3 separate regions of the Homo sapiens genome follow, and regions 2 and 3 are each linked to region 1. Evidence: fine-mapped expression QTL. A gene starts in region 1. Each other region holds a variant in brackets. All regions are shown on one strand. Distances are between the middles of the regions.

Region 1 (10,396 bases):
CACAGTAGAAGGGTTTTTGGAGTTGGTGAAGAGTGAGAAGTGCCTACTCTGGCTGACTTAAGCACAGAATTTGAGGGCAGGATATCAGTGAGGGCCCTTGGGAGCTTGGAGAACTAAGCCTGGAAAACAAGAGCAAGGTCATTGCCAAACTCATAGCACAGAACTGGACTTGTGAAGACACCACTGCTGCAGTTGGGCGCTGAGGGCCTCGGGGCCTGCACCGTCCCTGCCAGCCAGGGACCCTGGCCGCTGCTGCTGCTGCCCTTGAAACTGCCGACCGACACCCTTCTCCTCTGGCCTGTTTCCTTCACCTGCTCCCACTGTAAGGGCTGGGTTGGTGCACCTGAGTTGCTGAATGGAGCTCACAGGCCTTCACTCTCACTTCCAGGCAGGCTGGGGAGTGGGCACAGGGCATTTCCAAATTCTGCAGTCAATGCGGTTCTTCCTTCTATCAACATTCATAAGGCCGGTATGCGTTATAGGGTTTTTATTACAAACTACAGAGCTTCCTCTCGGTCATATAAGCAGAAAGGTTCTTATTATAGGACATTAACACACAGAATCTCAGGGAGGACAAGAGATGCAGCTTTGGAAACTATATAGCCAAGAACAGCACAGTGACCGCAGGCCACCCCTTGGTGCAATTTTAACAAAGCCACCACTCTGCCCCAGCGTGGGCACCAAGTACACTCAGGACCAGACCAGAGAAGCTCCATCACAGCCTCCCCAGAAAAACTAGATGCTGCTGCTTCTGCCTTCGCTGAAAGAAAGTTCCCGCTCACACAGCTGTGGCTTTGGGCTGCCCATCCCCATTCCCAAATCCCTGGCGAGTATGCCCAATTGGCAGAGCCCGTGCACCTGGCCAGCATTAAGGAAGCCTGGGCAACATGTTGTTTGTGGATTCTACTGTGAGAAGGTAGAACTCAAAACAGTAGTAGTTCTCAAACAGTGAGAACTATCAAAATAGAAGATGTTGAAAGGATGTTGTGTATCTCTGAAGCAGAACTTCATCACTGCCAGATGGAATTTTCTCTTCTTCTCTACTCTACTCTTCTCTTCTCTTCTCTTCTCTTCTCTTCTCTTCTCTTTTCTCTTCTCTTCTCTTCTCTTTTCTTTTCTTTCTTTTGACAGAGTCTTGCTCTGTTGCCCAGGCTGCGAGTGCAGTGGCATGATCTTGGCTTACTGCAACCTCTGCCTCCCGGGTTCAAGCAATTCTCCTGCTTCAGCTTCCCAAGTAGCTGGGATTACAGGTGTGTGCCACCACGCCCAGATAAGTTTCGTATTTTTAATAGAGACGGGGTTTCCCCATGTTGGCCAGGCTGGTCTCCAACTCTTAACCTCAGGTGATCCACCCACCTCAGCCTCCCAAAGTGCTGTGATTACAGGTGTGAGCCACCATGCCCGGCTGGAATTTTCTGTATGTAAGAAAAGGTTATAGATGTTAGGAAGCTGGAAAATGACAAATAAGAAAAACGGCAAGTAGCCACCACCACTATTCCCAATCTCATTCTTCTCACTGCTCCAGAAGCCACCAGCCACTACCATTTGAATTCATTATTCCACTAAAATGGAAGATCCTTGACGGCCCCTATATTTGTCTGATTTATTTAACAATTGATCCCAAGTGCCTAGAACAGTGCCTGGCACATAGAAGATGCTTGATACATATTTGCTGATGGAATGAAAGACGCTCGTTCATTTGCCGCATTGAAAAAAAGACAAAACTTCAAGTGGTTTGTAGGTTTAGAAAACTGCCAGAGGTAGCTTTACTTTGAACTCCATGAGTATCTACAGTAGAGAGAAGCAGCAGTGTAAAGTCCTCCCTCCCAACCCCTAGTGGTTAAACAGATTTTATAAAATAGGGTTTGACAATCAAGGACTAGCAGGAAGTTGCAGAAGGCACAGGAATGGCAGAAAACCCAAAATAAACCTTAATGAGGTCAGTGTACATTCATTATGAATTTAGTGATTGAAATCAGGTGTAATTTATAAATTTTCACTACTACATTAGCCATCTTTTATGATTCATGCTATCACCTAAAACATATTTCATAAATATTAAAATTAGAAGACATAGGGGTTAGGATTTACATTTCAAAAAGCCACCCAGTTCCCATAGCCCTGCTGGGTAAGCCCTTATCTCTCTGTACCTTAGTAGCAGAAAACACAGGAGAAGCACGACCATGAAAAAGGGCAAAGTGCAGTGAAATGCAATTGAGACCTTTAATCTTTGCCTAAGCAATTCAGCCAGAAAGCTCTGTAACTCACAAGGCATTATAAAAATATTCCACACCAGAGCTATTTACAAGTTAACTGCTCCTGAATAAATAAAAGTCCATGTGATAGCTTCATGGCTTTCTCTTAACCAAAGAGGAAAGTAAAACTCATATTTCTATGTTTTTAAATTTTTCTTCTCAAAAGGGGGCTTTATGAAATCTAGTTCTGTAGGTATGTCGTTCCTCTACACTTTACTGCTTGTATAAATATACTTACGTATTCATAAGCAATACTGTGCTAGATGCAGAATTCAGATGCAGGCAACAGAAATCACTGTAGTTATTTTAAATAGAAACAGAAGAAAGGGATTTAAGATGAGAGACTGCAAGCCTACACAATCTTTGAACGGAATGGAGGAGTGAGCTCCAGACTGAGCCTTTAGGAAGGACTCCCAGAAAACACCACCATAGAACTAGAAGCTGCTATCTCTGCCTCAATCAGCAGGCCACCGCTAGAAACACGAACATATGGTTTGGCTGGGAGCCAAGGATCTGGAAGCAACTCCGTGGTCTCGGGACTGAGCCACTGAGTCAATGGGGATGCCAGTTTGTAAGATAGGGAACACACTAGGAGGAACAGGCGTGGGAAGTAGAAATGCAGAGAGAGTTCTGTTTTAGCCATGATAAATTTGAGATGCCTGTTAGACACTCAAGAGAAGATGTTCAGTAAGAAGTTGGATATTGACGTTGAGTAAGATGTTGAGTAAGAAGTTGGCAAGTCTGGAGCCCAAAGGAAACTCTAAGTTGGAGATTTAATTTCTTTCTTTTTTTTTTTTGGAGGTAGAGTCTTGCTGTGTCACCCAGGCTGGATGGAGTGCAGTGGCACAATCATGGCTCACTGCAGCCTCCACTTCCTGGGCTAAAGTGATCGTCCCACCTCAGCCTCCTGAATAGCAGAGACTACTGGCATGCACCACCATGCCTAGCTAATATTTTATTTTTATTTTTTATAGAGAGAATGTCTTGCTTTGTTGCCCAGGCTTGTCTCAAACTCCTGGCCTCAAGCAATTCTCCCACCTCAGCCCCAAAGTGCTGGGATTACAGGTGTGTGCCACCATGCCCAATCTGGAGATTTAACAGGTTTCATACTATATAGGTCAGGCTGCAATTTTCTTTCTATTTTTTAAAATTCAATTATACCTTTGAGATCAACTAACTTCATGAGAAACTAGCTTGCTGTACTCCCTTCTCTGCCTATCTTTCAGTCTTCAAATCCAGAGTAATCCAGTTTCTACCATAAAGGGCCCACAAAAAGTGTTCTGAAACATCCGGTGTCATCCAAGTCCAAAATTGGACAGCTTTTTTTTCAGTTCTTCCTGTAACATTTGGCAGTGTTGGCCACTCTCTGCTTCTTTGGCAAGAATCTCAGAAAACACTAATAACTGCTCCAGGCAGGAGCCTGGAAGAGGTTACCAAGCTAGAGAAGGAAGCAACAGCATAGCTTGCTAAGGGCAAACAGCCCAGAGGAAACCCACGGCTCTGGTCAATCCTGTTGTTGATTGCTAGATCCAGAGACTGTTGTAGACCTCCCAGTTACAGTGAGGTATCTGACAACCCCTCACAAGGTTCTTGAAGCTCCGTGGTGGAGGGTATCTTGGATAAATCCACAGAGACACATTCAAGAGTAAATTCTCCACTGTTGGAGACCTCACTCACTCTGTTTGGTCTCCACCAAAGACACGGTTTTTAATTCATGGAGCTGCACTACAACAGCTCAAGAACTCCCAGCCAAAGTTTTAGTTTTTCTAGGAACATAAACGAGCCAATAGTGTGGAAATCGGTGATTAAAAACAAACCTCGCACATTTTAAGACAGAATTATTACAAGTAGCATGTACAAAAGGAAAATAATAGCCTACATTTAGTTCTTCTAAGCTTCATTCCACAAGAGATTGAAATCGAAGTATTCTGGGCTGGCACACGATAGCTGGAACATCATATTTTATTCTAGAAACACATTTGCCTTGGCAAAGAAGAGCGTGCCTAGAGGAGTGGTCAGGATAGTGAGGGATCTGTGATCCTTCGTTCTGAATCTAGAAAAGTCACTGGATATGCCCCTCCCCCGCCCCCCAACACGGTCTTATGTTCTGAATGTAGAAGTCACTGGATGTGCTGACACACACACACACACACACACACACACACACACACACACACACACACACACACAGAGTCTGTGGCCTCTTTCCCAGGCATTCCAAGTCCAGCAAGTTCGCAGGGAGCTGTCAGTCCGTCCAGGAAGGCCCGGGCCTGGGTTTGCCTCTTCAAGCAGCTACTGCAGGGGCGTGGGGAGGGGGCATAAGAGACTTTGGACTTTCCTTTGAGACAGTAGAAAGCGTTACATCCAGAGGCGAGATTCTAGCCTGGGGTCCCCGCCTTCCCGGCCTCCTCTTCCTCTCCCTCTGACTCCCTTTCCTGTGCCCCTCCCCCTGCCTCTTTCCCGGCCAGAGTCCAGCCTTAACCCGGGCAGAGGGCGGAGTCCCGTTAAGGGGGTGTGGGGAGGAGGCGGGGCCAGGGCAGGGGCGGGGCAGAGCCGGGCCAAGCTGGGCGGGTCATGCGCCCTGGCCTTCGCGCATCTCCCAGGTTAGCTGCGTGTCCGGGTGCTAGGCTGCAGACCCGCCGCCATGACGCTGCGCGCGGCCGTCTTCGACCTTGACGGGGTGCTGGCGCTGCCAGCGGTGTTCGGCGTCCTCGGCCGCACGGAGGAGGCCCTGGCGCTGCCCAGGTAAGGGGGCCCAGCGCCGCCGCCGCAGTGGGTCGGGGCCTCAGGAGGCAGACCGCGCTGGGCTTGCAGCCCAGCTTTCAGATTGCTCCTGTGCCGGAGCCCTGCGAATCATGCGAATCATGAAACTGAAGACCTGGCCCTGAAGTCCCAGTGCATATGAGGAGATCCGTTGTCTTTCTAAATGTTCATAATTAAACGTTGCCAAGGTCTCCAAAATTGCTTTCTGTGAACTTTTCCAAAAGGGAGAGGAGTTACTCATGGAGCTTTGTGCTTCTGCTGCCTCCTGTCTAATGGGGTGGCGCTTAAAGATGCGAGCCGAGATTCAGGAGAGAAGAAAGTTCTCTCCCCAGGTGTGGGTTGCATGCTTACTTGTGTAATAGCAAACTGCAGCAACCGCCCAAAGCCACATCACTGGGAAATGGTAGATGGGGTGTGCAGAGTGAGAGCTCAGGGACTTGGGAAAACACCTGTTCTACTACATGAAAAAACCACCCCACCAGAATCTGAAGCTATTTATACAATATGGTTTCAGCTATGGAAAAAAGGTACATGCAGAAAAGTGCCTGAAAGAAATAGGCCAAAGTACATCAAATGAGATTAGGAATAATGTAATGATTTTCTTTCTCTCTCTCTTTTTTTTGTGTTTTTTTTTTTTGTAGTTTCCAACTTCTAAATTTATAAACAATGTATTATTCCCACATTCAGAAAGGAGAGAAGTATACTTATTTATAAAGTGAAAAAGAAGGCCAGGCATGGAAGCCATTGTTCATATCCTCCTTTTACATATGAGGAAACTGAGGCACAGAAAGAAACCAGCTGTCCAAATCACATAGCTGTTAAAGAGCAGAGCCAGAAATCCAACCCCAGTAGTCCATGTCCGGAGCCTTTGCTTTTAATATAGTAAGGAAGATGAGATGGCAAGTAGCTTGAGGGAAAGGCATGTAATCTCTGTGCTTTGGGAAGCTAAGGTGGGAGGATCACTTGAGGCTGAGAGTTCAAGACCAGCCTGGGTGAAAGAGCAAGACCCTGTCTCTCCAAAAATAAAAATAAAATTAGCTAGACATTAGTGCATGCATGTAGCCCCAGCTACTTGGGAGGCTAAGGCAGAAGGATTGCCTGAGCCCAGGAGTTGGAGGCTATAGTTGTGTCCAGAGTTGGTTCCTGTCGGTGGGTTCGTGGTCTTGCTGACTTCAAGAATGGAGCTGTGGACCTTCGCAGTGAGTGTTACACTCGTAAAGATGGCGCAGACCCAAAGAGTGAGTGATAGCAAGGTTTATCGTGAACAGCGAAAGCACAAAGCTTCCACAGCATGGAAGGGGACCCCAGCAGGTTGCCGCTACTGGCTGGGGTGGCCAGCTTTTATTCCCTTATTGTCCTCTCCCATGTTCCATTTCTGTCCTATCAGAGTGCCCTTTTTTCAATCCTCCCCGTGATTGGCTACTTTTAGAATGCTGCTGATTGTGCGTTTTACAGAGCGCTGATTGGTGCATTTTACAATTCTCTTGTAAGACAGGAAAGTTCCCCAAGTCCCCACTCGACCTAGGAAGTCCAGCTGGCCTCACCTCTCAATCCTCCCTCATAACAGGACACCCCACCTGCTACTGGGAACTGGGTGATGACCACTCTAGCTACTTCCTGCTGGATAGGGGCAAAGAAGGGGCCCTGCCGTTGTAGTGTCCTCCAGAGGGGAACTCTCTAGGCCAGTCAAAGGGCCAGTGGGTCAGTCTAGCAGTCCTCGGTAGAAGTTGTGAGTTAAGCTCATTTGGGGTTCCATTTGTAAGACCATCTGTAGCTTGATGGCCTTGATCCTGGAGGAAACAAATTTGAGGAGGAGGTTAAAAATACAGGGACTGAAGGTGAGTAATAGCAAGATGGCTGTCACGGGACCTAGAAAGGGGAGAAGCCAAGTCACCCAACTCCAGAGGTTGGTATAAGAATTTGAAAGGTGTTGTCTGGTTTCAGAAGCCTTTTCCTGTAAATGCCAGGCAGCATCCTGTACTATCCCTGACTGGTTAGTTTAAAAACAACACTCCTCCCCTAAGAAGGTGCAAAGTCCTCCTTTCTCAGCAGTGAGGAGGTCTAGACCTTAGCGGTTTTGGAGAGTCACTGTTGCCAAATAGTCTATTTGGGATTGTAGAGTAAGGATAGATTTATTTATTGCAAACTGTCTGAGAAATCCTTTGAGAGTGTATGGTAGTAGGATAATGAAGTAGTTAAACTGGCTATTCTGGTTCCTGTAGCAGTGGGCATTCCTAGCCCTATAAGTAGGGGTATTAGTTGTATGGTCCTGGGCTGACAGACTTGAGCTTTGAGGGGCACTGATAGGGTCTGATTTCCTGTGGCATTGTTAGTGTTGGGACTTAGGAGAAGGTGCAGGTGCCTGTCCAGCTGGTGGGAGGCAGATATAGGTTGAAGTTCCACATAAGAAGAATATGCCTTGGCTGGGTAGAATAAACTGGTTGTGTATGTTAAAAAGGTGTGTGAGTTTGTTTTCATTTTCCCACACTCCTAGAGTACTTGCCAAGGTAGCTCTGGTGAGCAGCTGGAAAGGGTGTTGGGAGCAGACTGAGTGGCTCCCTGTGCTCTATTTTCCCATTGGAGAAAAAACCGTTTTGTATCTACTAGGAACCATCCAAGAGAGTAATTGAAAGAGGGGATAAGAAGACATACACTAGTGGTGGGGGCGCTGCTGCAGGGGGTCCAGGGGTGAATGGTCATGCAGGGAGTATGTTTGCCATTACAAAACCCAGACTGTTTGTTAAACAGGGAGGAGGTGATGATTTTGGGGGGCCCTGAGAAGCAGACAAGCCATCTGAATGGAGGTGTTTGGGTGACTCAGGAGTTACTATGATCAGTTGGGGCTTGAAGTTATAGGGTGTAATTACACTGATGGGATAGTAGGTGCCCCAGGGGCAGGCCTGATAACAGGTTGTGTTGGATGCATAAAAGGGCTTGGAAAGTTAAGATGGTATTCGGTATTCGTGGTCACAAGGTCTTGTATGGGCTTTTCCTGAGGATTGTGGCCTCCAGGCACAGTGAAGGTGATATTGTATCTCTAGTGCCCTGGAAACTCCCTGAGTTACCATGGCTTTAAAAGCCAGACCATTGTCACTTTGTAAGCTTTGGGGAAGCCCAAATCTAGGAATTACTTCATGAATTAGGACTTTAACCACTTCTTGAGCCTTCTCTGTCTTGCAGGACAAGGCTTCATCCAATTTGCAAAGGTATCAACACAGACCAACAAGTATTGAAATCCCCTTGACTTAGGCATATGGGCGAAGTCTAACTGCCAGTCTTCTCCTAGATAGTGCCCTATTCTTTGTTCCCCCAGAGGGGCCTTATGATGGACCAAGGGATTATTCCTTTGGCACACCTCACAGGCTTTGACTACTTGTTGGATGGTCTGAAGGAGATTTGGCCCTGTAAATAGGGATTTGGCCATTTGATGAGTGTTCTCAATACCCATATGAAAAGTTTGGTGGAGGGTCTTAAGTATTTTCCACTGGCTGGCTTCGGGCATGAGTACCTTTCCCTCTTCTGTTGTTAACCACCTGGAGGGGAGAAAACTATGCCCCCATGAAAGTCCTCATTCTGTTTCGGTTGGGGAATACTGGGGCTTAATCTCTTGGAGAGGGTTGTTCCATACCAAGGGTCCTTCCGTAGGTATTTCTAATGGGAGGTTCCACCTGGCAGCAATTTTGGCCTCAGTGTCTGCCTAATGGTTTTCTTCTGCCTTTTCTCCTTCACCTTTTGATGGCTTTGGCAGTGTAAGACTGCCACCTCTTTGGGTTTTTGCACTGCGTGCAATAACTCCATGATTTCCTTGTGGTATTTAATGGGGGTTCCCCTGGAGGTTAGGAACCCCCTTTCCATATTGCAGCATTGGGCATGTAGGATTAGATAAGCATACTTGTTATCTGTATACACATTTATTTTTTTTTCTTTCCCAGTTCTAAGGCTCAGGTAAGCACCACTAGTTCTGCTAACTGGGTGCAGGTCCCTGGGGAAAGAGGCTTACTTTCAAGTACTGTTACATCACTAACTATGGTATAACCTGCCCTTCATATCCCATTCTCCACAAATGAACTTCCATTGGTATATAGGTTAAGGTCAGGATTAGCTAAGGGGACTTCTAAGAGATCATCTCGGGCAGCATAAGTCTGGGCTACAATTTGTTGGCATTCATGCTCGATTGGTTCCCCATCCTCTGAGAGAAAAGTGGCAGGGTTCAGGGCCACACACAAGCGCCTGGTATCTAAGCAGGCAGTTGTCTGACAGCCATAAATTTCCTTTGGCACCTAGTATGCCATTTACATCATTAGTAGTCCAGACAGTGAGATCCTTTCTTTGTATTATTTTGATAGCCTCCGATACTAAGATGGCCACTGCTGCAACTACCCATAAACAGTAAGGCCAGCCTTTTGCCACTACATCAGTTTCCTTACTTAGGTATGCCACTGGTTGTGGGGTTGTCCCACGAGTCTGAGTAAGGACTCCAAGAGCTATTCCTGCTCTCTCTGTGATGTATAAAGAGAAGTCTTGTCCTTTGGGAAGGCTTAAAGCTGGAGCTTGTACTAGGGCCTGCTTTAAGGTTTTGGAGGCTGTTTCTGCCTCTGGTTCCCATTCTACTAGATTAGTGTTTGCCCTCTGGGTCTCCTTGATTAGAGCATAGAGTGGCCTGGCCATCTCGCTGTATCTGGGGATCCATAGTCGGCAAAAGCTGGTGATCCCAAGGAACCCCCACAACTGTTTTAATGTCTTAGGGCAAGGACAAGCCAGTATAGGCTGTATTCATTCTTTGCTTAGAGCCCTGGTTCCTCTGGCTAAGATTAGGCCTAGATATTTGACTTGTAGGCAGAGCTGGGCCTTCAGTTTAGATGCCATGTACCCTTGATTAGCTAGAAAGTTCAAGAGAGCTAGAGTAGCCTGCTGGCATGAGGCTTTTGAACTGGTAACCATAAGTAAATCATCCACATACTGAAGGACCAGAGTGCCTGTACTTGAGAAGTGGCCTAGATCTTGGGCCAGTGCCTGACCAAACAGATGAAGGCTATCCCTAAACCCTTGAGGCAAGACCATCCACGAAAGTTGGGACGTGTGGTCTGTGGGATCCTCAAAGGCAAAGAGAACCTTGGAGTCAGAGTGCAGGAGAATGCAGAGGAAGGCATCCTTGAGGTCCAGAACAATGAACCATTCTGCTTCCTCTGGTATTTGAGAGAGCAGGGTATAGGGGTTGGGTATAGCTGGATATAGAGGAATTACTGCCTCACTGATGAGTCTAAAATCTTGTACTAGTCTCCACTGAACGTTCGGTTTTTGTACTCCTGGAATTGGGGTGTTGCAGGGACTGCTGCATTTTCTTACTAAGCCTTGAACTTTTAAATGTCTAAAAATAT
Region 2 (10,396 bases), 54 kb after region 1:
GCTAGGTGGGAGGGAACATCAGGCTCCAGTGTGACCGTGAGATCACAGCTTTGAGCTTTCGAGGAGATGGGATCACTCTGGCAAAGGATAAGGGAACAAAAGATGGAGGCACTCATAAGGCCTTGCGCAAGTTCAGATGGTCTGCGAGAGGCAATGAGGTCCCCACCTTAAAATGCAGACACCTGGCCCGGGGATGGGAAAGTCAACAAGTGGCTTTTTTTGCAGGAGGACTTTTTGTAAATAGCCCAGAAGAGCCCAGCCTCAGCAGGATGGTCACTGAGGAGGAAATCCAGTTCTATGTGCAGCAGTTCAAGAAGTCTGGTTTCAGGTAAAGAGAGCACAGGGCCCAGACACAGATGAGAGATGATCGACAGATAGGGATCTTCAGCCCTCAGGGTGGAGGGTGAGGCCCAGTTCTCCTCCACCACAGCCCTCGTTAGTGCCAGGCCAGCCTCTGCTTCAATGCCTCCAGTGTCGGGAGGCTCACTACTTTATGGTGCTCAGCCTGCTCTAGTTTGGGATAGCTCAGCTTGTTCTTCCTTATGCTTATGGGGCCCCCATAGGGCAGAGGGTTTTCACTACTTTTTAGTCATGGCTCCTCAGAGAATCAGATGGCAACTCTGGGCTCTTTCTTCAGAAAAACATAAAAATCCACATAAACTCAAAAAGTGCATACATTTTGGTGCATTTGCCCTACTTCCTGATGTCATATTAGGAGGGGGCATCTTTGCTCCACCTCCCAATGTCCCTCTCAAGTGGGCTCCCTGGGGCAGGCGAGTGGCCTCTGGATGGTGAGGCTGCTAAACCAAGTTCCCCACCATCAGCAACCTCCCCAGCCTCCAAGGTGACACGATGACATTCCCTGGAGGGTCCTGTAGGGCCGGCTTCTTTGTGTCCCAAAAGCCAACCTAGAGGCTGCCAGTTCACTCAGTGGAGTCCTGTGTCCTTGCACAAGGCCTTGCTGCTAGAGCTTGGCAACTGCGCCCGACAGCAAGGCGTGGGTCCTGGGCTCTATTCTCTTGCCCCTGCAGGAGGCTTTGCTCTTCCCAGGACGACTGGCTGTGCAGAGCAGGTTTCTGCTGGTGTCTGTAGCAGAGCCGTCTACTTACTGCCTCCCTCTTTTTACTTTCTGATCTCTCCCCAGAGGTCCTCTAAACTGGTACCGAAACATGGAAAGGAACTGGAAGTGGGCTTGCAAAAGCTTGGGACGGAAGGTGAGTGCCAGGTTCAGTGTAGTCTCATCCACACCCCAGGACCCGCCCGCGGGGCTTCCCATTGGCCTGAGCTGATATGACCTGGGCCAGAGCTGGTTGTGGACAGATCTGCTGGCCACCTCCTTTCCCTTTGGGGTTTGGGAAGTGACTCCCTTCAGGGGTTTCCCTAGGATCTTTCTTGCTGGTGCTTCTCTTGGGATGGTAGAGGGTGACCTTGGGGATGGAGCTGGGGTGTGTCCAGGGAACTGCAGCATCCATCCGGAATCCCCAGGTCCCCTGGTGGTACCCCAAGGCAGGGCTGCAGATGGCCTGGGGCACCTCCCAGAAGTGACATGGATACTGGAGCCCCCAGCCCAGAGGAGCGTTAGGTGCTCTCAGAGATGTGACTTTAGCCTTCGGTTGTGTCACCTTGCACAAGTCAATCTCTGAGTCTCAGTTTCCTCATTTGTCAAGCAGAAGATGAGTTTCCAATCTCTGGGTCTGCAGAAGGAGTAATGGAGGTTCCCAGTTTACATTCAAAATGTTTAAAAATCTAAGGGAAATCTGTTCCCCAGTGTGACTGCACAGGTAGCTAGGCCTTCATCAGCTCACTCAGTAGCCATGGTTACCTTGTTGGTTCACTCTGTAAGTGAACACACTGCTACATGCCAGACTTCCTGCCAGACCCTGGGATACCATGGTGTGTAAACAGACCAGGTCTTGACCTCCCAAAATTAAGTCTTGAGGCACTAGAGTATATAACATCGTGGTTAAGAGCAGGCTAGGAAGCACATGGGCTGAGTCTAATCCCTGTGTGACCCTGGGAAAGGTACTTAACCCCTCTGATCCACTGTGGCTTCTTCTGCAATATGCAAGTGGCAAGAACAGTGCCTCCCTCACAGAGCTGTGTAAGGATGAAATGGTTGAAGGCATGTGACCTGTTACAAGCAGTACTGGGAACCTATTAGCTCCATTAGTGTTCCTTGTCATTATCATCATATGACCGATGAAAATGACCAAACTGCAGTTGGACAGACAAAATCTCTCAAAGCGTGGAGGAAAATATTGACAAAGGCGCTGGGAAGGTGAATCCCAATGGTGCTAAGGTCAGAAACCCTCCTCTTCTGCAGTTTATTTTTTGAGACAGTCTTGCTCAGTTGCCCAGGCTAGAATGCAATGGCACGATCTCGGTTCACTGCAACCTCTGCCCCCTGGGTTCAAGCAATTCTCCTGCCTCAGCCTCCCAAGCAGCTGGAATTACAGGAGTGCGCCACCACACCCAGCGAATTTTTTGTGTTTTAGTAGAGATGGGGCTTCACCATGTTGCGCAGGGTGGTCTCAAACTCCTGAGCTCAGGCGATCCACCCACCTCGGCCTCCCAAAGTGCTGGGATGACAGGCGTGAGCCACTGCACCCAGCCTCTCTTCTGCAGTTTCCAGCTGGATCTTCCTCTCTCCTCCCCCACCTCCTCCCATCCCATCCTCTCCCCCCCCCGCCCCCCGCCCAGTTCACATTTTAGCTTGGAACTTTCTAGAGTTTACAAACCTCATAGAAGCCTCAGGATTCGTTTTAGCCACAAAATCATTTTTGACCTTCTCCTGGCTCCTGGTTGTGGGAGGAGGGAGGGGTGTGGAGAGATGCCCATCACTCTGGGTGTAAATGAAAATAGTGCACGTTCCTCAACCAGGGATGGGTCAAAGCTGCTTGGAAATTAGGGTAATGGTGGAGCGAGAACAAAGGAAAAAACACAGAGGCTTTCCTGGCCTTCCTGTGCATGCCTCCCTGTGTTCAACTCATTTGCCAGCAATTGGAAGTTACTTTGCTGCCATTCATGTCACATTGATTACTACTGTGGCTGCCCCCATTTTCTCTGGAACCTTGGTCGCCCCTTTTAAGCATCTATTTAATTCAGGGAAGAGGAATCTTGATCTTCATTCAAGGGTGTCTTCTGCCTTCTTGGTGCCATCAATTCGGTTCTCCCAGTTACATGCAGCTCAGCACACGTTCTCACTCACACACATCTGCACACATAAGACCCATATTGGCCTCTGCACTGCTGAAGCTGTTATTTTAAAGATCTCCAGTAATAACCACGAGTCTGTTGTGCAAAGTTCGGCAGATACAACGTCAGGACCACAGCAGGGTGGCGAGCAGGGGTCTTTCAGAGGAGGAGGGAGGGCTTCCTTTGTGGAGTGCTGGCCACTTCTGTTTCCTGTTCTCCCCCCAGATCCTGATTCCGGCCCTGATGGTCACGGCGGAGAAGGACTTCGTGCTCGTTCCTCAGATGTCCCAGCACATGGAGGACTGGGTGAGGGAATGGCCCTGTACAAGGGTCATCAGTGCACCCCGGGAGAGGGCACGGGTGCTCAGAGGGAAGACGGCAGCAGAAGATACACCTTGTCATGTGGATAGGACCATGGTTGAAGCACATCATCAGTAACATCACTGTCCCCCCATTGCAAGCAGCAACCGTGACTGTACCTTCCTTTCCCCTGCATGGATGTGGGGTCTCATTCATTCATTATTCCCTTCCTAAATCATGCAGGGTTTGGGCAGGGTGGCCTGCGGGGAGCAGAGAGAAGGCGTCCATTGCCCATTGCACTAGCTAGAGACACACCCATCTGCCTTCTTCCATTTACCTTTCTGCCTGGGGTTTCCTTTCAGATTCCCCACCTGAAAAGGGGACACATTGAGGACTGTGGGCACTGGACACAGATGGACAAGTAAGGAGGTTGGGGGCTCCTGGGGTCGGGGAGAGCAGGGCCCCCCGTTCACCTTCCATAAAAGCTTTCCTGGTTTCATTGTGCTGGCTTTGGCCTGGCTTAGCCACTCATGTCACTCACCTCTGCCTTCGAGTTGGCTGGGTAGGTGCAGACAAGTGTGAATGGCTATTTTTTTCTTTTACTTCTCCCTTTCCCCCAGGCCAACCGAGGTGAATCAGATCCTCATTAAGTGGCTGGATTCTGATGCCCGGAACCCACCGGTGGTCTCAAAGATGTAGAACGCAGCGTGTGCCCACGCTCAGCAGGTGTGCCATCCTTCCACCTGCTGGGGCACCATTCTTAGTATACAGAGGTGGCCTTACACACATCT[T/C]GCATGGATGGCAGCATTGTTCTGAAGGGGTTTGCAGAAAAAAAAGATTTTCTTTACATAAAGTGAATCAAATTTGACATTATTTTAGATCCCAGAGAAATCAGGTGTGATTAGTTCTCCAGGCATGAATGCATCGTCCCTTTATCTGTAAGAACCCTTAGTGTCCTGTAGGGGGACAGAATGGGGTGGCCAGGTGGTGATTTCTCTTTGACCAATGCATAGTTTGGCAGAAAAATCAGCCGTTCATTTAGAAGAATCTTAGCAGAGATTGGGATGCCTTACTCAATAAAGCTAAGATGACTATGCTGCTGGCTGTCTTTGTTCTTGGAGAGGTGGAGTGACTGTTCACGGAGAATGCACGGCATGGGGATGAACCCTTTCCCTCTGCTTTTGAGCCCTGTTCTGGGCTCCAAGGTGCTGTATGATCTAGGCCGTGCTGGCCAGGAGACAATCCTATGGGGATGGCAGTGGTGTCTTGTGCTCTGTCCCCTAGAGCAGTCACTGGCCACAGGTAGCCACCTGCCTTTCTCCCGGCTTCCCTAGCAGAGTTTGCTCAGGCACAAATGTGCACCTGGAGCATTTGAAATGTGCTAGTGAGGCTGAGGAAGAGAATTTTAAATTTCATTGAATTGTAATCAGTTTAAAGTTAAATAGCAGCAGCTGCCATGAGGCTCAGGCAGATCCAGCTCATCTTCCCCTCTGCCCCCTCCTCCCTATCTTCCCCTCTACCCTCTCCTGCCTCCTGTCACATCCGGTTAGGCTCCCATCTCACTGATGTGTCTCCTGCAGTGGTCTCTCCCCTGCCCTGCTTCCAGCCCCAGAGTCCTGGAGCAGCAGCCTCCTCACGGGTCTTGCCGCCCACATGGTTGGATCCTGAAACTCGCAGGGCCTCCCCCAACTGCCCCTGCCCACCCCCAGCCCGGCCCCATCACCCTCCAATTCCTAACCGCCCTCCAGCAGCACACTTGCAGGTGCTGATCCTCCTTGACCCTCTGCCTAACTTACCCATTCTTTGCCTGGAATATTCCTCCTGCCACCTCCTCCAAGCCCATAGGCTGGGTTCCGAGCCCTTTCTGCCTGCCCCCCTTGCATGGTTATCGGGCTCACAGATGCACGCACAATGGCCTCGCTGCTTGCGAGAGAAAGTGGTCCCTCCAAGCTGAGTTTGGCATGATGACGGGCATGAGTTGGCCAGGTCACAAGAGCCTGAGTATCTGTGTATAGGGAGAAAGCCAGGAGAGGTTTGAAATGGAGGCTGCTGGCATTTCTTCACTGCCCTAGTGCACCTGGAGTCTTCCATGCACCACCTCTGATCCTTCCAGAGAGTCCTTCCCATTTAACCGAGAGGGAAACTGAGGTTCAGATAATTTGCCCAGGACTGCTTGGCTAGATGGGGGCAGAGCCTGGATTCAGAAGCAGGCTTTCTGGCTCCTAAGGCTGAGCTTTTTCTACAAAAAAATGTTCTCGTCGCGCCACTGCACTCCAGCCTGGGCAACAGATTGAGACTCCGACTCAAAAAAAAAAAAAAAAAGAGAAGTTCTCCTTTCTAAATCTGGAGCCAGACCACCTAGGTTAGGCCTCCGGTCAGCTGCATACTCGCCTTGTGACCTTGAAAAAGGATATCTGTGCCCCAGTTCCCTCATCTATAAAAAAGGGGACGTTAGTAGGACCTAACTCATGGGTGGTTGTATCAAGTATGTTAATAATATGCACAGAGTTCTAGAACAGTGCTTGGCATGGAGGAAGTGCTATGGAAGTATCAGCTATAAGATTTCCAGTTTGTCTTAGGACAAGACCTCTAAGGGCTTTCCATTTCCAGCCATGCCACCACCATCTCAATCTTTTGCATCTGAGAATTAAAGGGCTAATTTAAAGGCAATCATGAGGACTGGGGGAAAGGCTTACACCAGATCACATTATTTTCCTAACTGGGTGTATTCAAGCTCATTTGTAAGGGAGCAGTTGGGGGAAAGGAAATAATCAAAACCTAAAAGCGTCCTTTACTGGAAGGAGCACAAACAGCAAACCTGTCTTCCCGAAAGTCTCGCTTTTAATATTCTATCCAGTCATCTCCATCAGCCATCAAAAAGGCCTCAGAAATTCTGCTCCTTTGGCAAGTAAGAGTTGAATAACTCCATTCCATAGCATTGCCAGAAAATATAACTGGTTATACAAGATTGAGGGCTGTATCGGTCTGTTCTCCCATTGCCATAACGAACTACTGGAGACTGGCTACTTTATAAAGAAAAGAGGTTTAATTGGCTCACGGTTCTGCAGGCTTTACAGAAAGCATGGCTGGGGAGGCTCCAGAAAACTTACAATCATGGCAGACGGTGAAGGGGAAGCAGGCACATCCTACGTGTCTAGAACAGGAGGGAGAGAGAAAGAGAAGGGGGAGGTGCTACACACTTTTATAAACAACCAGATCTCATGGGAACTCACCATCACGAGAACAGCAAGGGGGAAATCCGCCCCCAAGATCCAGTCACTGCCCACCAGGCCCCACTTCCAACATCGTGGATTACAATTTGACGTGAGATTTGGGTGGGGACAGAAATCCAAACCGTATCAAGGGCCATAAAGGACAGTGGACTGGAAGAGGTCTTTAGGTTTTTCAAGAAGATAGTGGAATGTCCAGGGCTATGTTTCCTGGTCTGCTTTGAGGACCTTTGGGCCACACGTCAACTGTTGCAGTGGTGGTATCAGGGCATTCCCTGGAACAATCAGGGAAGATTTTCAGATGCCATTTTAAGTACAAATGGCAAGGAGTGTGTTCAAAATGATTTAATTATAAAATGCTATATTTTGGGATTGAATTTAATTTGTAATTAACATACTAGTACATATTCATGGGGTACATAGTGATGTTTTGATACATATAATGTGTAGCAATCAGATCAGGGTAATTACACATGTCATCTCAAACATTTATCGTTTTTGTATTGAGGACATTTAATAACCTCCTTCTGGCTATTTAAAACAATGTATCATTGTTGACTGTAGTCATTGCTCAGTGCTATACAACGCTAGAACTTACTCCTCCCATCTAGCTGGAATTTGACATTCCTTAAATCCCTCCCTATCCCCCACCTCTTCCCCAACCCTTCCCAGCCTCCTATCCTCCATTCTACTTTTTACTTCTAGGAAATGAATTTTTTTTTAGCTTCTGCATGTGAGTGAGAACATGTGGTGTTTCACTTTCTGTTTCTGGCTTATTTCACTTAACAGAATGCTCTCCATTTCCATCCGCGTTGCTGCGAGAGACAAGATTTCATTCTTTTTTTGTGGCTGAATAGTAAAAATATGTTATTTTTATTTCATGATTACAAAGGGAATAGATTACAAGTATATTCCCCTCTGCTAAAAGAAATCGGCCCTTAAAAAAGAGGTCCAGCAGTCTTCATATTCTCTCTCACACCCTCCAGCAGTGGGTTGTGCTGCTCCCGGGAGGAGGCTGAGATCACTCACATATTCTGTCAAGGAAGGACCACTTAGTGGCTGTCAATTAGCAACATCCAAGGTTTCCAGGAGACCCGTCTTCTAAAAAGTGAGTCTATTAGACTAGACAGGACAAAAAGCTATTTCTGTCTGTCTTGGGGTATAGGGAACCCACGGTTTTAGACCTTGACATGACTGTCCACCAGTTTCCGTGTCGTTCACAGCCACATTACCATCAATACAAATTAAAAGCAAACAATGGTTAAAATATCTAGGTCAGAGGCTCAAAGGGTTTTTTTCCAACAGGAATTGGGTGACAAATATTATGCCTCACTGTTCAAAGGACTCCATCTGGCCACAAATGATAAAATACTTTCTTGCCTGAGCAATTGTAAAGTGTCAACTCCTGCACCCAAATGTGTAACTGTCTGTCTCCCTGTTAGACTGTGAGGGCCCTGAGATCGGGGGCTGCCTGTCTAAGTAATTCGTCCTGAAACCCAACCCAGCACTGGCCTGGCATATGTAAAATGCTCATTAGACGTTTGCTGAATAAATTGGAGAGTATATGCACAAATGGATGAATGGACAAATGCATTAGTTTCAAGTTAAAATAATTAAAATTTGATCGGGCATGGTGGCTCACATCTGTAATCCCAGCAATTTGGGAGGCCGAGGCGGGCGGATCACCTGAGGTCAGGGGTTCAAGACCAGCCCAGCTAATATGGCAAAACCCCATCTCTACTACAAATACAAAATTAGCTAGGTGTGGTGGTGGGCACCTGTAATCTCTGCTACTTGGGAGGCTGAGGCAGAAGAATCGCTTGAACCCAGAGGCGGAGGTTGCAGTGAACCAAGATCATGCCATTGCACTCCAGCCTGGGCGACAAGAGGGAAATTCCATCTCTATAAATAAATAAATAGCCTAATGTCCTCGAGGTTCATTCATGTTGTCGCATGTGTTGGAATTTTCTTTCTTTTTAAGGCCAAATAATATTCCATTGTATGTATAGACCACGTTTTGTTTACCTACTCATTCAGCAATGGGCACTTGGATGGCTTCCATATTTTGGCTATTATGAATAATGCTCTGAGCATCAGTGTACACATATCTCTTTAGGGCTCTGAATTCAGTCCTTTTGGGTATATATCAAAAAATGGAATGGCTAGATTATATTGTAATTTCTATGTTTAATATTTTGAAGAACCACCAGATGGTTTTCCATAGCTGGTTTCCATTTTCTGTTTTTTTAATATATAGAATGGCCATGTGATGTCCCATGATGGTTTTATTTGAATTTCCCTAATGATTAGTGATGTTGAATATCTTTCCTTTTTTTAAATTTATTTATTATTATTATACTTTAAGTTTTAGGGTACATGTGCACAATGTGCAGGTTAGTTACATATGTATGTATACATGTGCCATGCTGGTGTGCTGCACCCACTAACTCGTCATCTAGCATTAGGTATATCTCCCAATGCTATTCCTCCCCTCTCCCCCCACCCACAATAGTCCCCAGAGTGTGATGTTCCCCTTCCTGTGTCCATGTGTTCTCATTGTTCAATTCCCACCTATGAGTGAGAATATGCGGTGTTTGGTTTTTTGTTCTTGCGATAGTTTACTGAGAATAATGATTTCCAATTTCATCCATGTCCCTACAAAGGACATGAACTTATCATTTTTGATGGCTGCATAGTATTCCATGGTGTCTGTGTGCCACATTTTCTTAATCCAGTCTATCATTGTTGGACATTTGGGTTGGTTCCAAGTCTTTGCTATTGTGAATAATGCCGCAATAAACATACGTGTGCATGTGTCTTTATAGCAGCATGATTTATAGTCCTTTGGGTATATACCCAGTAATGGGATGGCTGGGTCAAATGGTATTTCTAGTTCTAGATCCCTGAGGAATCGCCACATTGACTTCCACAATGGTTGAACTAGTTTACAGTCCCACCAACAGTGTAAAAGTGTTCCTATTTCTCCACATCCTCTCCAGCACCTGTTGTTTCCTGACTTTTTAATGATTGCCATTCTAACTGGTGTGAGATGGTATATCATTGTGGTTTTGATTTGCATTTCTCTGATGGCCAGTGATGGTGAGCATTTTTTTCATGTGTTTTTTGGCTGCATAAATGTCTTCTTTTGAGAAGTGTCTGTTCATGTCCTTCACCCACTTTTTGATGGGGTTGTTTGTTTTTTCTTGTAAATTTATAGGAGTTCATTGTAGATTCTGGATATTAGCCCTTTGTCAGATGAGTAGGTTGCAAAAATTTTCTCGCATTTTGTGGGTTGCATGTTCACTCTGATGGTAGTTTCTTTTGCTGTGTAGAAGCTCTTTAGTTTAATTAGATTCCATTTGTCAATTTTGGCTTTTGTTGCCATTGCTTTTGGTGTTTTAGACATGAAGTCCTTGCCCATGCCTATGTCCTGAATGGTAATGCCTAGGTTTACTTCTAGGGTTTTTATGGTTTTAGGTCTAACGTTTAAGTCTTTAATCCATCTTGAATTGATTTTTGTATAAGGTGTAAGGAAGGGATCCAGTTTCAGCTTTCTACATATGGCTAGCCAGTTTTCCCAGCACCATTTATTAAATAGGGAATCCTTTCCCCATTGCTTGTTTTTCTCAGGTTTGTCAAAGATCAGATAGTTGTAGATATGCGGCGTTATT
Region 3 (10,396 bases), 39 kb after region 1:
GAATTATGCTCAATCCAGAGGAGACACAATGAGTGAATAAAGGGAGGGAAAAAAAATGAATGTATATTTTAAAACTAGAGAGAGATTCGTGTCTCCATATTCTATCCAGGGTTGCTACAGTATGTGTACTGTGTGTGTGTGTGTGTGTGTGTGTGTGTGTGTGTGTGTGCGCGCGCGCGCGCGCACCTATGTGTCTAAGGCAAGTTGGTGAGAAATACTGCAGTTTAGTAGGAAAAAAACCAATGGACTAGGAATCGAAAATCCTGAGTTCTGATCCCATTCTCCCATTCACTGCTAGTGTATGACCTTGTGCATAGAATGTTCCCACTCTGAGCTTCAGTTTTGAACTGCAAAGTCCTTTCTGGCTCTTGTAAGACTGTCTTCTTACAGGGGCTATGTCTTGCTGCCTCTTATTTCTGTAGGGCGGTGGCCAGTTTGAATACTCCCTTCATACCAGCAAATCCCAACATGTCCCCTTTGGAGAGTATCAAAGCCAACCCAGTATTTGATTACCAGCTCTACTTCCAAGAACCAGTAAGTATGGCACCAAGGGCAACAATGGGAGCATTAGTGTTTGCCTTTCCCCTTCCTGTCTCCTTCTTATTTGCTTTATCACTGTCCCCTTTAATTTTATGTGGCATTAGTCAGAAATGATTTTACAAATGGGCTCAGGTGAAACTGGCTGCCATGCCCAGCTGATCCTTCCCAGGCAATGGCACATTTCCGTGTGTGTTCGGGTGGTGAAGGGCCGGGGGATGTTGTACCCTGGGGGGATGGCTTCTCTGGTGTCTCTGCAATTGCAGAGTTTTGGGGCTCAATGCTCAGGTAGAGCTGCCCCTCCTCATTCTCTGGCTGAAAGGCTGGTGATTATGGCACCAGGGTCTAAGAGTCCTGCAACAGGCCCCACATGTGCTCTGAAGAATCTGAGAAGTTTCTAGGTATCAGTACACGTGCCACAAAGATGCCTTTCAAAGATGCCCCCAGATGTGGCTGATACATATATTGGGGCATCCCTGCCACTGTTAACTGGAATTCACTGAGAGCAGCATCAGGAGTCAACGTCACCTGGCCTGGTGCCCCGCCTACAGCTGCCCTCTTCTGTGGGAGACATCTGCTATGCATCCACTTGCAGGAATTATCCAGAGAGAATAAAAGATGTTTCCTGCACACTCCAGAGAGAGAGGAATGGAAGGAATTAATTAATCAGGAATGTGAGAGCGTCTCCCACGTTCCTCTCCCAGCCTCCACCTCTGCTCCTCTTAGGAGGGACCGTTTCCAGCAAGACCACAACCATCCCAGTTTCGATTCAACGAGTAACTGTTCTCCAACAATTATTTTCATTGATGAGACAGCATCTGTGTGAAAGGAGCTTTGCGATTCAGGCAATAACTGGACTCATTCACCAAAAGCTCCCAGCGGCATTTTGAAGAGACCTCGACATGTCGCATCCCACATACTACAGGGAGGCCTGGGCCCTGCTGTGCCACAGCCTGGTGTGTGGGAATCCACGAGCTTCCTTTGGCCTGAATGAAAGCACAATGTCCTTCATTAGTGTGAGATAGTCTCGATGGTGAGACTATGGGTGTGGTGTGTGGTGTAGAGGGCGTATTACTTTGCTGGGGCTGCCATAACAAAGGCTAGGTAGCTCAACAGACTGGGCAGCTTCAACAACAGAAATTCACAGTCTTATAGTTTTAGAAGCTGGAAGTTCAAGATCAGGGTATTTGTAGAGTTGGTTTCTCTTGAGGCCTCTCTCCTTGGCTTGTGGGTAGTCCTCTTCTCCTTGTTTCCTCATATGGTATTTAGCCCATTAAAAAAAATTTTTTTTGAGACAGGATCTCACTCTGTCACTCAGGCTGGAGTGCAGTGGTGTGATCATAGCTCACTGCAGCCCCGACCTCTCCAGGCCCAGATGATCCTCCCATATCAGCCTCCTGAGTAGCTGAGACTACGGGTGTGTGCCCCCACACCTGGCTCACTTTTTGTGTGTGTATTTTTTATTTTTATTTTATTTTATTTGAGGCGGAGTCGCCCTCTGTTGCCCAGGCTGGAGTACAGTGGCGCAATCTCGGCTCACTGCAACCTCCGCCTCCTAAGGTTCAAGCAATTCTCCTGCCTCAGCCTCCTGAGTAGCTGGGTCTAAGGTGCATGCCACCACTCCCGGCTAGTTTTTTGATTTTTTTGTTTGTTTGTATTTTTAGTAGAGACGGGGTTTCACCATATTGGCCAGACTGGTCTCGAACTCCTGACCTCATGATCTGCCCGCCTCGGCCTCCCAAAGTGCTGGGATTACAGGTGTGAATATATAGAGACGGGGTTTCACCATGTTAACCAGGCTGGTTTCAAACTCCTGGGCTCAGGTGATCCACATGCCTCGGCCTCCCAAAGTGCTGGGATTATAGGTGTGAGCTACTGCACATGGCCTAAAATATTTTTAATTGTGGTAAAACACATGTAATGTAAAATTGACCATGTCACCTATTTGTAAGTGTGCAGTTCTGTGGCATTAACCACATGTACATTGTTGTGCAGCCATCACCACATCCACCTCCAGAACTTTTTCATCTTCCCAACTGAAGCCCTTCGCCCATTAAACACTAACTCCTCATCTCCCCTCCTCCCAGCCCTGGCAGCCACCATTCTACTTTCTGTCTGTATGATTTTGACTCCTCTAGGAACCTCATATAAGTGGAAGCATGCAGTATTTGTCCTTGTGTGACTAGTTTCTTCCACTTAGCATCATGCTTTCAAGGTTCACCCATGTTGTAGCAGGGGCCAGAACTGCCTTCCTTTTTAAGGCTGAATAGTATTCCATGGTGTGTATAGACCACATTCTCTTAATCTGGTCATCTGTCAATGGGTTACAGCTACAGCTGTTTTTGAGCTCTTATGTGCCACGTGGTTCTAATCTTCACAGCAACACGAAGAATTCTCTCCTATCTTCTCAGCTGAGCAAACCGAGGCTCAGAGGGCTTAACCCCAACTGGCCCAAGACCAGGTACATGATTGGGTCAGGATATCGACCTAGGCCTGTTTGACTCCAAAGCCCATGCCTCCAACTAAGCCATGCTGGAGGGGAGCTTGGGCTTTGTTCTGTGCGCTATGGGGAGTCAAGCAGAGAGAGGAGGGACAAATCAGGATAGGCTCAAAATCCTGATTGCAAAAGTGACCTTAGGAGAAAGACGCTTAGTAATTACAGCCCTTGTCAAGGCACAGTTTTTTGTTTCAAAGGTTGTTAACAGTTATTGTGGAAAAATCAGTACCTCTATTCTGTTGTAGCAGCTGGGTTTAAAATCTGCAGTGAGAGTTTTGGGGACAGTTTTGTTCTTAAGAACAAAGCGCCTTGGCAGGGAAATGTTAGATATTCAAATTAGTGATCTGGCCACTGAAAGATACCCAGTAACCAGGTTGGGCTGCATCCAGCCACTGGAACCACTCAATAGGTACAGAGCTGGGACTGGAGGAGAAATCACTCACAGGGGTTCCTGCCAGCCTGCCTGATACCTACTCTCTAAGGAACAAGTAGGCAAAGGCACTTCCCATCCCTGGCCCTCAGTTTCCTCATCTGCAAAAGGTTGGTTTTGGGTGGTTTTCAAACAGGTAATAGCTTCAAACTTAAGCTGATTCCAGGTCAGCAAATAAAGCCAATAACATGGAGAACAGCTCTTGGATGTATAGTGGGTGCTGGGAGTTCCTCCTTCCTGCCACCTCCTAACCCGCTCCCTCCCTGGCCAGGAGGAGGCATTTCTGACATCTCCTCCTTCTCCCTAGGAGCACTGAGGCTGTTCCAGACCCATGCAGCCTAAGGAAGACTCCTTCTGTGCTGTGGGTGCACCCGTCTCCCCCACTTATTTTTTTATTATTATTATTATTTGAGACAGAGTCTCACTGTGTCGCCCAGGCTGGAGTGCAGTGGCACAATCTCGGCTCACTACAACCTCCAGCTCCCAGGTTCAAGCGATTCTCCTGCCTCAGCCTCCCGAGTAGCTGGGATTACAGGCACCCACCACCATGCCTGGCTAATTTTTGCATTTTTAATAGAGACAGGGTTTCACCATGTTGGCCAGGCTGGTCTTGAACTCCTGACCTCAGGTGATCCATCCTCCTCGGCTTCCCAAAATGCTGGGTGAGCCACTGCGCCCAGCCCCATCTCTCCCACTTCTGGGTCATCTCTGCTGAGCACTGCAGGGTGAGGCTTAGACTAACTCCAAGTTTAGAGTCAGCTCCCATATAGCTCTTTGAACCCTTAGCCAACGTGCTGAATCTTGGCCTGGGAATCTGCCAAGTCTGCTGGAAACAAACAAGGCTTGCTTTTCTTGCCTTCTCAGAGAAGAGGTGACAGCTTTCCATGTGTATAGTGAGAAAGCATGAAGACTAGGCAGCTCTGGCAGCGAAGGCCAGTGGAATCGGCTGGGTCATTTCAGCTTAGCTGTTCCATGTTTTAATTCTGAGGATTCCCAAAGTCCTCACTTGGCCTGGGGGATACTCACACCCCATTATGCCCCCCATACCAGAACGTACCTAGGATATCCTGTGAACCCTGCTCTCTCCCACCTCACGACACTGGTCCTCTTTACTTGTCCTTAAACCGCACATGTGTATTTTTATTTCTTTGAGGAAGACTGGGTGGCAGGCACCTGTGTGTGTGTCTGGAAACATATAGCAAGCTAGAGGCAGATTTCAGGCAAAAAAAAATGCTCTTTTGGGCTGGGCGTGGTGACTCACATCTATAATCTCAGCAGACAGGTGGATCACCTGAGGTCAGGAGTTTGACACCAGCCTGGCCAACATGGTGAAACCTCGTCTCTACTAAAAATACAAAAGAGCTGGGTGTGGTGGTGCATGCCTGTAATCCCAGCTGCTCGGGAGGCTGAGGCAGGAGAATCTCTTGAACCTGGGAGATGGAGGTTGCAGTGAGCTGACATCGCAGTACTGCACTCCAGCCTGAGCAAAAAAAAAAAAAAGAAAAAGAAAAAAGAGCCCTTTTATTTAAGTATTTAACCAGAAGAGAAACTAAGGATCAGAGAGAAAATGTGGGAAAAGAAAAATTGTAGGCAGAAGGTTTTACCTGGCTGAAAATCATCCACAAATGATTTTCTTTCTCCTCAAAACATTGAGTCTCTCTCTCTTTTTTTTTTTTTCTGCTGTGTTGCCCAGGCTGGTCTCTAAGTCCTGGCGTCAAGTGATCCTCCCACCTCAGCCTCCCAAACTGCTGGGATTACAGGTGTGAGAGCTGCCATGCCAGCCTAAATGTTGAATCTTTCTTAATCTCTAGAACACAGTAGCTCCTTCAGGCCATGGGGACAGCTGGTGATTAGTTACAGAGTTTATTTTTTAGGTTTTGTTTTTGTTTTGAAATTATGAAGTAATTCATCCTTGCTATTTAAAAAAGTCCTGTGTTGTGTAAAGTAAAAA[G/A]CTGAATCGCCCTTTGCCCATCAACGAGCTACTAATAGCTACTACTAATAGTCTGGTATTTCCCAGACATTTTTTGAAATATTTAAAAACTATTTTTGAATGTTTTTAAGCAAATATATGTGTGTATGAGCACACACACATATATAATTTTTCATATAAATGGAATCATGCTGCTTTTTCATTTAATACATATTGCACAGATTTTTTTGTCAGCACATATAGATTTATCTCATTCTTTTTAATGGCTGCATGGGGTTTTGTAACAGGTAGACTATGGATTATGTAATCCTCTGTGGAGGGACATTATTTTGATTATTTTTCACAGCCGAATAATATAGTTTAAAAGAAAGTGCCACTGTTTGCTACCTTATGCACCAAGCTTTAACTATTGTTACTTTAATTTTTTTCTTTTTTTTTTTTTTTTTTGAGATGGAGTTTCGCTCTTGTTCCCCAGGCTGGAGTGCAATGGCATGATCTCAGCTCACCACAACCTCCATCTCCCGGGTTCAAGTGATTCTCCTGCCTCAGCCTCCCAAGTAGCTGGGATTACAGGCATGCACCACCACGCACGGCTAATTTTGCATTTTTAGTAGAGATGGGGTTTCTCCATGTTGGTCAGGCTGGTCTCGAACTCCCACCCTCAGGTGACTTACCTGCCTCGGCCTCCCAAAGCGCTGGGATTACAGGCATGAGCCACCACGCCCGGCTGTTACTTTAATTTTTATGCCCTTTATGGAGGAAACCCTTGGCAGGGTTATTTTCATTGTCTTAAATTGGCAGTGTTGTGTTAGGTTGTGGTGAAAAGAACCAAATATGGAGGGGTTTGGAGTCTGATGTTCTCATTTATAATCTGCCTGACCTTCAACGAGGCACTTAAGGCCCCTGACCTGAGCGTCTTCCTCTGTGAAATGGGCCTCACAGCTCAGGGCTGTTATGGACAGAAAGAGCTGGCACCATCAGCATGTGGCAGGCGGCCCCCAGTGCCCTGGGTCCCTGTAGAGCCTTCTAAGTCTTTGCTGTCCACCTCTTTCTCATCTGACCAGCCACACTGCAGAGTCAAAGGTCAACAGTTTGCTGTCTGCCCAGATTTCGGATGCTTCCAGCCACTGCCATTTTTGACCTCAGGGACAACCACCCCACTGTTTCTCTTGGCCTGTCTTGGAGAACACTGGCGCAGACTTCCAGAGGAATTGGAGTCATTTTTGTCAAGGTAGACGGAGCATGAAACAGAGTCACTGGCCCAGCCCGCTGACCAGCAGAGGCTTCACCTCCACTCCTGGATGGCATCCTTTGGCGTTACTTGTAAAGGGCAGGAGGGCTGAGTGGGGGCTTCGTGGACCTGCAATTTGGCTTCAACAGCTGCCTCCATTGTCTCACCCACAAAACAATAGCCACAGTTAAGTGCAGCCTCTCAGCAGACCTGTTCTCTACCTTGGAAAGGACACAAGAGAAGATTAAAGAGGAGAAACTCCTGGGATGGTGGAGGGGAGCTCTCCCTGTTAGGAGGGCTGAGCACAGGAGGCAATCCTGTGCCCTCCACCAATGTGGGGGCACCTCCCTGGCAAATTAGGTGACTGACAGTGCCGCCCCTACCAGCGCTGAGTGGAAAGTCTAGACAAAACTCCATCTTTTTGTGGTGCCCTGCATTTCTGGGGGCTCCTCTGACAGTGTGCTGAATACGCACATGGGAAGTAAATTGAGAGGATGAGGGAAGTCCAGGGCACCTTGGATCCTGGGACCCTCCAGACCCCCACCCTGCGGTTGGCACACCTGCTGCCTGTTGCTCCTGGGGGTGGTGCCTGGGCCCCCTGAGCCCAGGGTAATGAAGACCCTGGCCCCTTTCCCTCCTCACCCTCTCCCCTCAGCCCCCACATCAAGATACCCCCTGGAGACATGCTTTAGTGTAAGCTGGGGGCCAGAAATGGGAGGAAAATAACAGAAGATAACATTTGTCCTCTGCTTATGTGCTTAGCTGAGACCTTCTGACTCTTTTTAATCTACAAAAGGTAAGACCGTATCTTTAAATCCTACAGACCAATGACAAATTTCCTGCCTGCTCTGGATAGGGGCTTCTCCTTTTGTGTTCCCACTCCCGGGGCTGCCATAACAAAGTACCACAAGCTGTGAGTTAGAACCACAAAAGTGAATTCTCAACAGTTCTTGAGGCTAGATGTTCAAAATCAGGGTCTCGGCAGGGTTGGTCCCTTCTGGGGGCTCCCGAGAGAGAGTCCATTTCATGCCTGTCTCCCAGCCCCTGGCCGTTGCTGGCAATTCCTGGTGTTCCTCAGCTTGTAGACACATCACGCCCGTCCCTGCCTCCGTCTTCATGTGGCATCCTCCCTTCTGTGTCTCTGTATGTCTCAATTTCCCTCTTTCTCTCATAAGGACACAGGTCATTAGATCTAGGGCCCAATCTAAAGCCAAGATGATATCATTTAAAGAACCCTAATTAGATATTAATTTAAAATTTTAAAAAATCAGCCAGGTGCAGTGGCTCACACCTATAATTCCAGCACTTTGGGAGGCCAAGTGGGAGGATCACTTGGCCAGGACTTTGAGACCAGCCTGGGCAACATAGCCAGACCCCGTCTCTACAAAAATGTTTTAAAAGTTAGCCAGGCATGGTGGTGCACACATGTAATCCCAGCTCCTCAGAAGACTGAAGCGAGAGCATCACTTGAGTCCAGGAGTTTGAGGATGTAGTAAGCCATGATTGCACTACTGCACTCCAGCCTGGGCAACAGAGCAAGACCCTGTCTCTAAACGAATAATAATAATAATGGAGATAATGATATTAATATTTATTGGCATGCCTCCTGCATGTCAGGCATTGTAAGAAATGGGCATTATCTCATTTAATCCTTACAAAATCCCCATTTTACAGATGAGGAAACCGAGGCTCTAGGGAAAGAAGTTCCCCAGCTGGTAACTGTCAGTACTTGGGCTTGAAACTGTGTTTATTGGATTCTAAAGTCCATCCTTTAACTTCTGTGCGCAGGAACACAGAAGGAGGAGCCCCTCTCCAGGGCAGACAGGAAATTTGTCATTGGTCTGTAGGATTTAAAGATATAGTCTTATCTTTTGTAGATGAAAGAGAGTCGGAAGATCTCAGCTAAGTGCATAAGCAGAGGACAAATGTTATCTTCTCTCCTTTCTGGCTCCCAGCTTCATCCTATTCTTTCTGTTGCTCTGCTGCACTTTTATGTGAGTGAACAGATTTATTTACCTTTTTTCTCTCTGATTTTTTTTAAGAGACAGGGTCTCACTCTGTTGCCCAGGTTGAAGTGCAGTGGCACAATCATAACTCACTGCATTCTTGACTTCCTGGGCTCAATCAGTCCTCCTGCCTCATTCTCCCTAGTAGCTGGGACCACAGGCATGCACCACCATGCCCAGCTGATTTTTAAAATATTTTTTGTAGAGTCAGGGTCTCTACTGTTGTTCAGGCTGGTCTTGAACTCCTGGCCTCAAAGTCCTCCTGCCTGGACCTCCCGAAGTGCTGGGATTACAGGCTTGTGCCACCACACCTAGACTCTTTGATTTTCTTTACTGACTTTTTGACATCGTTTGCCCTTTAAAGGATCATTTGAGGCAAAGCCCTGTCCAGGCTTCCATGGGTTCCTTCAAACACTGAAATGCACCCCTGAGCTCATGAACAGCAGCTGTTTCTGGGATGAGGACTGCTCTCAGTAAATAAGAATGATGACCGACAGCCACACACACAGACCTGACCAGGGCTTCCATCCATGACCTAAATGTGCTTCTTCCCATGGCTATTTCTCACTGTGGCATTCATCATCATGTTGCGGAAGGCCGCCATTGGCACCATTATAATTGAATCTTACAAAACGGAGGGAACTGTCATTAACAGGCAGACATAGCTTTCATCAGAAAATCTCCAACCCTAGATCCAGCACCGCCAGATGATCAATGTCTCCATTCTTCTGTGCTGCCACTGCACAGATCCAGAGCTCTCGTGAGGAGTGATGAGCAGAACAAAAAAGAGTAACGTCTCACTGGGCATGGTGGCTCATGCCTGTAATCCCAGCACTTTGGGAGGCCGAGGCAGGCGGATCACTTCAGGTCAGAAGCTCGAGACTAGCCCGACCAACATGATGAAACCCCGTCTCTACTAAAAATACCAAAAATTAGCCGGGCGTGATAGTGGGCCCCTGTAATCCCAGCTACTTGGGAGGCTGAGGCAAGAGAATCTCTTGAACCCATCTTGGCAGTGAGCTGAGATTGCGCTACTGCACACCAGCCTGGGCAACAGAGCAAGACTCCATCTAAAAAAAATAAAAATAAAAAAAGTAACCTCTCAACGTGTGCAAGCACTGAGGACTGCAGGTCGCTGGAACGAAAGCTTTGTGGATGTGGCTTTAGGATCTTCCTGTCCTCTGACTCTATCTCAAAGGCAGCCACAGATGCTGCTGAGAACAGGATGAGTCCCCACCACTAAGGGGATCCCAGGAGAGCACATTCAAGGCTCTGCAGGATCCAAGAAAAGCAGAGTTACCCCTTGGTGGTGGGAAAGATGGAACCTCATGGAGAAGGCAGTGTTTGGGTCCGGTGTTGAAGGCCAAACTAATAGAAGTCCATGCTCTTGGTGAAGGTCACAATGTGTTAAACCAGGGAGGCCAGCGAGTAGGAGGCCCGCTCAGAAAACACATGCAGAACAGTTCAGCTGATGTTTGGGTGCGTGCAGGTGGGTGGTTAGAGGGAAGGAGAGGAGAGTCAGTTGGCATTGCCACACTTAACTCAATTCCCTCTGGTAGCACTAGTCCCTCAGCAGCAGCTGTGTTACAGAAATATTTTATTTTATTTTATTTTATTTATTTTGAGACAGAGTTTCGCTCTTTTTGCCCAGGCTGGAGTGCAATTGTGAGATCTTGGCTTACTGTGACCTCTGCCTCCCGGGTCCAAGTGATTCTCCTGCCTCAGCCTCTGAGTAGCTGGGATTATAGGCATGCACCACCATGCC

What was found. PIP is the estimated chance that this variant, and not a neighbour inherited with it, causes the effect.
Region 2: its variant is fine-mapped to the expression of EPHX2 in esophagus mucosa (GTEx, PIP above 0.99). The same link has a PIP of 0.9 or more in hippocampus, iPS cells, ileum, liver, pancreas and sun-exposed skin.
Region 3: its variant is fine-mapped to the expression of EPHX2 in minor salivary gland (GTEx, PIP 0.98).

The regions. Positions count from the first base shown.
Region 1 is chr8:27,486,310-27,496,705 of GRCh38, forward strand. EPHX2 (epoxide hydrolase 2) reads left to right here and starts at 4,834. Exons shown (of 19, transcript NM_001979.6): 1 at 4,834-5,000. The coding sequence starts at 4,900. RefSeq lists a cis regulatory region at 2,577-2,891 and a silencer at 4,638-4,917.
Region 2 is chr8:27,540,329-27,550,724 of GRCh38, forward strand. It overlaps EPHX2 (epoxide hydrolase 2), which reads left to right. Exons shown (of 19, transcript NM_001979.6): 15 at 226-328; 16 at 1,145-1,214; 17 at 3,421-3,501; 18 at 3,858-3,916; 19 at 4,116-5,236. The coding sequence ends at 4,194. Among named protein-coding and RNA genes, the nearest start is that of EPHX2, 54 kb to the left of the region's middle. The variant T/C (reference allele first, on the strand shown) is at 4,287.
Region 3 is chr8:27,524,940-27,535,335 of GRCh38, forward strand. It overlaps EPHX2 (epoxide hydrolase 2), which reads left to right. Exons shown (of 19, transcript NM_001979.6): 12 at 423-534. Among named protein-coding and RNA genes, the nearest start is that of EPHX2, 39 kb to the left of the region's middle. RefSeq lists a silencer at 2,839-3,039. The variant G/A (reference allele first, on the strand shown) is at 5,416.